2 separate regions of the Homo sapiens genome follow, and region 1 is linked to region 2. The links come from fine-mapping of genetic effects on gene expression. A gene starts in region 2. The other region holds a variant in brackets. All regions are shown on one strand. Distances are between the middles of the regions.

Evidence for each region.
Region 1: its variant is fine-mapped to the expression of C6orf141 in tibial nerve (GTEx, PIP above 0.99). The same link has a PIP of 0.9 or more in skeletal muscle.

Annotation. Positions count from the first base shown.
Region 1 is chr6:49,568,435-49,572,826 of GRCh38, forward strand. It overlaps the pseudogene CYP2AC1P. Among named protein-coding and RNA genes, the nearest start is that of C6orf141, 20 kb to the left of the region's middle. RefSeq lists a silencer at 2,202-2,496. The variant G/A (reference allele first, on the strand shown) is at 2,351.
Region 2 is chr6:49,548,158-49,552,549 of GRCh38, forward strand. C6orf141 (chromosome 6 open reading frame 141) reads left to right here and starts at 2,511. Exons shown (of 1, transcript NM_001145652.2): 1 at 2,511-3,938. The coding sequence starts at 2,636. The coding sequence ends at 3,370. RefSeq lists a silencer at 2,496-2,555 and enhancers at 3,226-3,295, 3,312-3,831.

The DNA of each region.
Region 1 (4,392 bases), 20 kb after region 2:
TTTTTTTTGAAATGCAGTTCTGCTCTTGTCACCCAGGCTGGAGTGTAAAGGCACAGTCTTGGCTCACTGCAATCTCTGCCTCCCAGGTTCAAGTGATTCTCCGGCCTCAGCCTCCCGAGTAGCTGGGATTACAGATGCCCACCACCATACCCGGCTAATTTTTGTATTTTTGGTAGAGACAGGGTTTCACCATGTTGGCTAAGCTGGTCTCGAACTCCTGATCTCAGGTGATCCGTCTGCCTCGCAAAATTTCTATCTGAATGCAGTAAGTAATAAATGTTAAGGAAATAATTGAAGAAAAGAGTGCCTTAAACACTAGAGGAATATGAAGATTTGAAGAGATTGTGGCACTCATGATTGAAACACAAAATTAGTTTTATAATATTAATTTTTCTCACTGTAACAGTTTAACGATGATTGTATTTTAAGAATATTTCCAGCTGGGTGTGGTGGCTCACATCTGTAATCCCAGCACTTTGGAAGGCCAATGTGGGTAGATCACCTGAGCCCAGGAGTTTGAGACCAGCCTGGGCAACATGGTGTAACCCTTTCTCTACTAAAAATACAAAAATTAACTGGGCATGGTGCCATGAACCTGTAATCCAAGCTACTTGGGAGGCTGAACTGGGAGGATCGCTTGAGCCTAGGAGGTCGAGGCTGCAGTGAACTGTGATCATGCCACTGCACTCCAGCCTAGGCAACAGAGAAGACCCTGTCAAAAAAAAAAAAAAAAAAAAGGAATATGTATGCATTTTTGCCTAAAATAAAAATAGTATTATTACTGGATTTTCTGGATTAAAACAGAAAAAAAAAAGGTCAAGTATAACTAGGGAAGTTTAGAATTCCTGAAGTAAACAGCAAAATCCTTTGAGAATAAGCCACTCTGAAAATCTGGACTATTGCTACTTGTCTCTTAGTACAAAGAAGCCTCCAGGTCCAGTTGTGTAAGAAACCAGGAAGAGCTTATATACAATATTGATTAGAGCTCAAGAGACAAAGTAAAAGAATTGTTCATAGTGAAAAGGGAGTGTTAAGAAAAACATAATTCCTTCCCTCCAAATACTAACAGCAGTAAGTCCAAGAGTCTGGAAAAGAGTCTGAAAAAAAAAAAAAACTTTATGCATGAAAAAATTATTGCTCCATGTCTTCTCTTACAAAATGATGGCTCAGTGTCAGATGTTGTTAACGTGCACTCCAGAGACCATTGTTTATGTTTCTAGGCTCTTTTTCTTTTGTTTTTTAGAAAAAACAAAATGTTGTTTTGAAATGTTGAGAGACATCGAGTTTATAACACTGCAAATTATATGCAGATTGTTTTTCATTTTTTAAAATTCTTGTTCCAGGTGTGATATTACATTTTTTACTTGAAAGTCATTAATCCAGGTAATATTTTCTCATGTATCCTCTTGTGTGTGTGTGTGTGTGTGTGTGTGTGTGTGTGTGTGTGTGTAAAAATCAGGAGACTGAATTATACTGTGTATCTTTTATTACTTAGTTACCAGTAGGTGAAGAAAGACTATTCTTGGGTGGCTGCTGTTTATCCATCACTGAGTGGATATCTGGAGTGAATGTTAAGCCATTGTTTGTATAAGCAGAAAGGCCAAAAATCACAAACTGCTTGTGGTGCAGCTTTGCTGTGACTCTGCTAGGAACAGAGAATTTATTTCAAGTTCGTAGGCTTCAGACATTTATGGAACAAATTCATTTCGTTCTCTGAATTTCAAAATTAACACTAGCGGAAAGCTCTTTCCTCCCACCTACCTTCCCCAAAGAAATCCTAAAAACAAAACAAAACAACAACAACAAAATCTTCTATTTACACATATTATTAAGGCAGAACTTTTTTGGTTGGGGTAAAGTTGCTGCCAACTGTCTTTCTGTTGCTTAACTTTCTCCTCAAACTCCTGAGGTTCTACCCTAGCCTCAGCCACAAGGAGTCTTCAAAGATTCCCTTAGAAAATGTTGCTTTAGTGCCTAGTGTCCCAGAGCCAATTTAGAACCAGTTCTGAAGTTTAGTGCTATATGGAAAAGTACGAAACCTTAGCACAGTCTTAAGTCTCTCCAGATTTTTCAAACCGCCTTTCTCAAGTAAGATACATTACCCACTGAAAGGGCAGGAACGCTTCTCTCTTGATAAACTTTTCCTTAGAGTTGAGGAAATGCTCAGGATTAAAAGTGTCTGGTTTTTCCCACTGTGCTTGATCTCGAGCTACTGAAGCCAGCAAGATGATAACCTCAGTGCCCTAGAAATACAAATGTTCGTATTAGTAACAGAGATTAAATTTCTTCCTAAAAAGGTCACTCTCTAAAGACATATCATGATCTTGGTTGGCAATTACTCAGAAGCAGG[G/A]TGTTCTGGAAGGAAATGGAAGAAGGGGAAGCCGAACAGTGGCAGGTGGACTTGAGGCTTAGTGTGGAGTATTCGCTTTCCTAACCACATGTTTATTCATGTGCTTACTAAAAAACTCAAGCCTTGGACTCAGAACTGGGAACAAATTCTTACTTAGCCATCTAGTGGCTATGTGATAACAGCATGTCATTTAACTTTTGATAAACCCCACTTTCTATATTTGTATAATGAGAGTTAAATAGTCTTCATCTGAGACTGAGCCTTAGAGGAAAGGATACATGTGAAAGAAACTGGCACAGTTCCTGGAAGGTTTGGGGGCTCTATGAAGGTTGGCTTTTATCTCCAGTGACTATGATAGTGGATATTAAATCAAACAAGCCCATTCCAAACATTCTCAAAAACAAGTTTCCCTGCTTCCAGAGCTTGCTGCATACTGGGAAACAACTTTCTACAAAAGAGAAAGTAATTTTAATTGTGATGTGGGAAAGGATATTCTGAGAACTAAAATAAATAAAATAAAATAATGATAAAAAACAAAATCTCTCCACCAAATTAAGAACAATATTCTCTACTTCATTTTGGTTCATTACAGTTGCCTCTTTTTAAATTTTATTTATTTATTTATTTATTTTGAGACAGAGCCTAACTCTGTTGCCCAGGCTGGAATGCAGTGGCACGATCTCAGCTCACTGCAAGCTCTGCCTCCCATGTTCGAGTGATCCTCATGCCTCAGCCTTCTAAGTAGTTGGGAATACAGGTGTGCACCACCACACTCAGCTACTTTTTTTTTTTTCGGTATTTTTAATACCATAAAGAGATGGGGTTCACCACGTTGGCCACGCTGGTCTCGAACCCCTGGCCTCAAGTGATCCACCCACCTCGGCCTCCCAAAGTGCTGGTATTACAGGTATGAGCTGCCATGCCTGGCCCTACAGTGGCCTCTTTAAGAAGGCTTTGTAATACTATCTTGGTGATTAGCTGTTTTACAACATGAATCTGTATAGTTTTTCAAATTACAAAAAGCAAACAACTGCTTTAAAATGTTCTGTTTTAAAACTTTAGGCTGGGTGTGATGGTGCACACCAGTAGTCCCAGCTACTCATGAAGCTAAGGCATGAGGATCGCTCAAGTCCAGAAGTTCCAAGGCTAGCCTGGGGCAACATAGTGTGACCCTATGTTTAAAAAAAATAAAAAATAAAAAACTATCTGTCTATTTATCTATGAGTGATTATTTGTATCCTGATATTGTGCAGACTTTCTCCTCCTCATAGCAACTGTGCTAGTTGTTTCCATTTCACAAAAAAGATGATTGAGGCCAGGAATGGTGGCTCACACCTGTAATCCCAGCCCTTCGGAAAGCCGAGGCGGGTAGATCACCTGAGGTCAAGAGTTTGAGACCAGCCTGGCCAACATAGTGAAACCCCATATCTACTAAAAATACAAAAAATAGCCAAGCGTGGTGGTATGCACCTGTAATCCCAGCTATTTGGGAGTCTGAGGCAGGAGAATCGCTTGACTGGGAGGCAGAGGTTGTAGTGAGCCGAGATCCTGCCACTGTACTCCAGCCTGGGCAACAGAGTGAGGCTCCATCTCAAAAACAAAACAAAACTAACAAAAAAACAAATAAAAAAAGAGATGATTGTGGCTGAGTCTCTGTAGCAAATAAGTGAGACCCCCTATATCTTCCTTCTCCTTCCTTCCTTCCTTCCTTCCTTCCTTCCTTCCTTCCTCCCTTCCTTCCTCCCTTCCTTCCTTCCTTGACAGGGTCTTGCTCTGTCACTCAGGCTGGAGGGTAGTGGTGCAATCATGGCTCATTGTAGCCTCAAACTCCTGAGCTCAAACAATCCTCTTTCTTCAATCTCTTGAGTAGCTGAGACTACAAATGCATGCCACCACATCTGGCTATATTTTAAATTATATTTGTAGAGACAAGGTCTTGCTATGTTGCCCAGGCTGGTCTTGAACACCTAAGCTCAAGCGATCCTCCTGCCTTGACCTCCCAAAGTGCTGGGATTATAGGCGTAAGCCACCATACCTGGCCC
Region 2 (4,392 bases):
GCAGGAGAATTGCTTGAACCTTGGAGGTGGAGGTTGCAGTGAGCTGAGATGGTGCCATTGTACTCCAGCCTGGGCAACAAGAGTGAAACTCTGTCTCAAATAAATAAGTAAATAAATAAATAAATAAAATCTTTAAGAGGATAAGCAATTTGGTTTGTTCCTCCAGATGTCTCTATCACCTAGAAGAGTAGCATATAGTTAGTAATTAGTGGTTATGTAAATGAATAGAAAAGAACATGAAGTCACAGGCTTAAAATATGAAGGTAATTTAGAAGTCATTTTGGAGCAAGCATTTAAATAAGTTAGAATCTTGGCTCCACTGTTTATTGGTGTTTGACCTTGGGCACACACTTAACCTCTTTGTGCTTCAAAGATTTCAAGGAGACCAAAGAAATACTACTACTTTCACAGTTTATTGTGAAGAATAAATGTGTTTAAATATATAGAGTGCTTAGAACAATTCTTGGCTAAGACACTCAAAAATTTGAGCTCATTGTGATTGAGGAGAAACCAGCCCAAGGTCAGGCATGTATATTTTTTGGTTGTTTTTGTTGTTGAAGAGACAGAGGTCTCACCATATGGTGCAGGCCAGATTCCAACTCCTAGGCTCAAGACACCCTCCCACCTCAATCTCCCAAGCAGCTGGGATTACCAGTAGGCGCCGCTGTGCCCACTAAGGTCAGGCTTCTAATCACCCAGGTCTGACCCAGATTTTCTCACTCCTCCTCTATCACTTTATTTCTTTATATGATTTGGCAGATATCAAAAGTCCTCCCTTTCCAAATATCTCACTATACTACTTTGTTTTTTACATATGGGCAGAATTTTTCACCATTGCACTCATTTTTCTAAATCAGGCAGGATTTAGATTTCTCTTTCTTTCCTTTCTTTTTTTTTCTTTTTCTTTTTTTTTTTGACAGATTCTTGCTCTAACACCCACACTAGAGAGCAGTGGTATGATCTTGGCTCACTGCAACCTCCCCCTCTCCCGTTCAAGCGATTTGGTGCCTCAGCATCCCAAGTAGCTGGGATTACTTACATGTGTGTACCACCATGCCTGACTAATTTTTGTACTTTTTGTAGAGACTGGGTTTCACCATGCTGACCAGGCTGGTCTCAAACTCCTGGCATCAAGTGATCCACCGGCCTCAGACTTCCAAAATGATGGGGCTACAGGTGTGAACCACCACACCCAGCCATCAGTGGGTTTTTTAATAAAACAAACAGCTAAGGATGAACTGGAAACCACAAACTGAGCTCTTTTTCTATGACCTAGCCTCCCCGGTTAACCTTAGGCAAAGAGTAGTGGTCAGCGGGCCTGCCTATGGGTAAATTCTAAAAGCCTCGCCAGAGACACTTAACTTTTTTTAACCCCTGTGGTTAAAGAGGACGGGTGGGTGCAGAGGGAATTTTATAAACGACACAAACACAAACAATTTTAAGTCCTGAAAAAATTCATTTGGATGTTTGTTTTGCTTCTGTTTTATAGCTTGTTTTAAATCAAAGACTACACCTTCCTGAGACAAGCGTTGATTACACACAAAATGAAGACTGGCCAGGGCCGTGGCTCAAGCCTGTAATCCCAGAATTTTGGGAGGCCCAGGTGGGTGTGTGGGTAGGGTGGGGGATCCTGGGTATCTCGTAAGCCCAGGAGTTCCAGACCAGCCTGGGCAATATAGGAGAGCCCCACCCCTACCATCTCTTAGAAAAATATAAATAAATAAATAAATAAATAAATAAATAAATAAATAAATAAAAGCCGGGCATGGGGGTGCGCGCCTGTAGTCCCGGCTACTTGACGGGCTGAGGTGGGAGCCTGGAAAGTCGAGGCTGCGCCACTGCACTCTATCCTGAGCTACAGAGCGAGACCATATCTAATGTGGGGGGGTGGGGTAAGAGGAAGGGGGAGCGGGGAGAGGGAGAGAGAAAGAGAGCGGGAAAAAAGAAGGAGGAGGAAGAGGAGGAGGAGGACACAGGTGTGACCATTGTCCTCCAGAGCTACAGATTCTGGCATTCTAAAGGAAGAAGGACAAAGAAACCAAAACCAGTTTCTCCAAGGCTTCAGCTTTTCAGTCTGACCATTTGATCTACATTCCATTATTTTGGCAGCATGGTGGGAGTGGATTCGGAATGGACAAAAACCCTTTTCAGAATTAGATCAGCTAATTAAAATGCACACAAACTTCTTTGTTCCTTCACCTCAAGGAGCGTCCTTGGAAAGCAAACATACTTCGGGGCATTTCAGTGGGGGCGCAGTGCGAGGGTGTCCTTTGCGCCTCAGCTCCGGAGAAAAACGAAAGGTGGGTGGGAAACTAGGATAGAGGTGAAAAGTAAGAGGGGACTGAATCAGCGAATGACAAAGGGAGCAGGGCTCCGGACAGGGGTAGGAGGAAGAAGAGGAGTGACTGGGGCTTGTGTCAAGCTTCTTCTGAATGGCTAGACAGCCGCCAGGTGGGAGAGGCGGAGGGTGAAGAGGCGGGTTCCGCACGCGGTTAGCCTGGGGCTGATCTAGTCTTCAGCTTTCACCGGCTGGGAGTCCGGAGCTGCAGCAGAGGCCACACCCAGGGCTTGGTGGTCCCGCGCTTTCCGGAGCTCAGCAGGCGCTTGCTGCTTGAACCGGTCAAAGAAGGAACGAATGAATGACCCTTTTGCCAGGATGGAGACCCGGGGGCCTCAGGGAGCTGCGAATCCCATGGACTCCTCCCGCAGCCTGGGGGACCTCGGGCCTTTTCCGCGGGAGGTAGGGCGCGGGGCTCCGCTAGCTCCGGGCGCCCGGAATCCCGCGACGGCAGGGGCGAGCCGAAGCCAGGGCGGCGGCCACGAGGACAGAACGGCAGATCGGGCCCTCGGACCTCGGGCCGGGGAGGAATTGGACCGTGAGTCCTGGGTCAGAGAGAAAGTGCTCTTTCTCCTGCACCCAGAGAGGTGGTTAGGGACTCGAGGGGACCCTGCACGGGAAGAGGTGGCCGGTGCAGAGGACCTTCCTCATGCGGGTGGAGAGGACCACGGCGAGGAGCCCAACTACCCTTCTGTCTTTCAACGACAAAAGCGAATTTCTGGCAGGCGTGTAGCCCCGCCGCGGGACGCAGCAGACCCACCCAAATACGTGCTTGTGCGGGTGGAGGATTATCAGGTAACACAAGAAGTGTTGCAGACCTCCTGGGCCAAGGGTCGCATGACCACGAGGACTGAGGAGCACTTCGTGACCGCGCTCACTTTTCGCAGCAGTAGAGAGGGACAGCCTGGGGAACGCTGGGGCCCTGCTGAATCCCGGGCTCTCCAGGCACGAACAGGGGCATCCCGCGTCCACGCCGCGGGGAGGAGGGTTTCACCGTCTCCAGGGACTTGGCTCGAGGAAATTAAACTCTAATGAGTAGCTCGAGAAATGTTCCGGGATGGTGGATGAGCGATCATCCTTAAAAGAAAATGCTATTCTGGGAGCTCCAACCTGCAATTAACCTACAGAAGGAACCTTTTGAGAGGCTGGTGCAGCGCTTCGGGGAGGCAGATTAAGAACTGTAAGCAGCATAATACCTCCTTTGTGGCTTGAATTCCTTCGCTGTCTGGGGACCTAAGTCATTCAGAAGAGGTGGAGAAAAGATATTTTCAGATTGGCAGAATGTGGGAGTTTTGAAATGAGAAAACCTGTTGTTAATTTGCATTTTGGAATAACTCTCAATTGATCTCTTTTCTGTTCCCCGCCCCCCTCTTGTTTCTCTTTAGGACCTAGAAACAGAAGTGAAGTTTGAAGTCTGCTCTCTGCAAAGAGGGTGGGAGTGGGTGGAGAAGAGGCTTGTTTTAAAAGCCAAAAACAGAAAGTAAAAAGAAATGGGAAAGTAAAACCAAAGCAGCAAGTGACTCTCTTCTGATGTGCACTTTTCATTTTTCTCCCCCACATTTCAGTGTTAGAAAGAAAACGAGAGGAGCTAGGGAAAGAAGGAGTTGGGGACAGAAGACTAAGATTTCAACGTGAAATTCCATTTACAAAGGCTTTACTGCAAACAATAGCTAATTTAGTCCTGTAAACATGCATTTATCATACATTTTAATTTTAATATTAAAAATACTGCATGTAAATGTTCTGAACTAAAGGTAGATAGCAATATGTAGTTTGCCATAAAATGAATGCATGTCTTATTCTTTTCCATAGTTCTTCATTAATGAGACTTGTAGTCAAGAATAGATTGAAGATACCATTCTCCTTGTGTAGTTCAAAAAAATCTCCTCTGGTAATACTGAAACAACTAATTTTTCTTATTTTGTTTGTTCCTCTTTATTATTAAATACTATGTGAATTAACTCTTTAGTAGTTGGCCTGGTTGAAGCTCTGTGAGGAGCAAAGCAGCCCTCTCCAGGTGAACTGCTTGACTTTACCACCTGAAGGAGTATTTA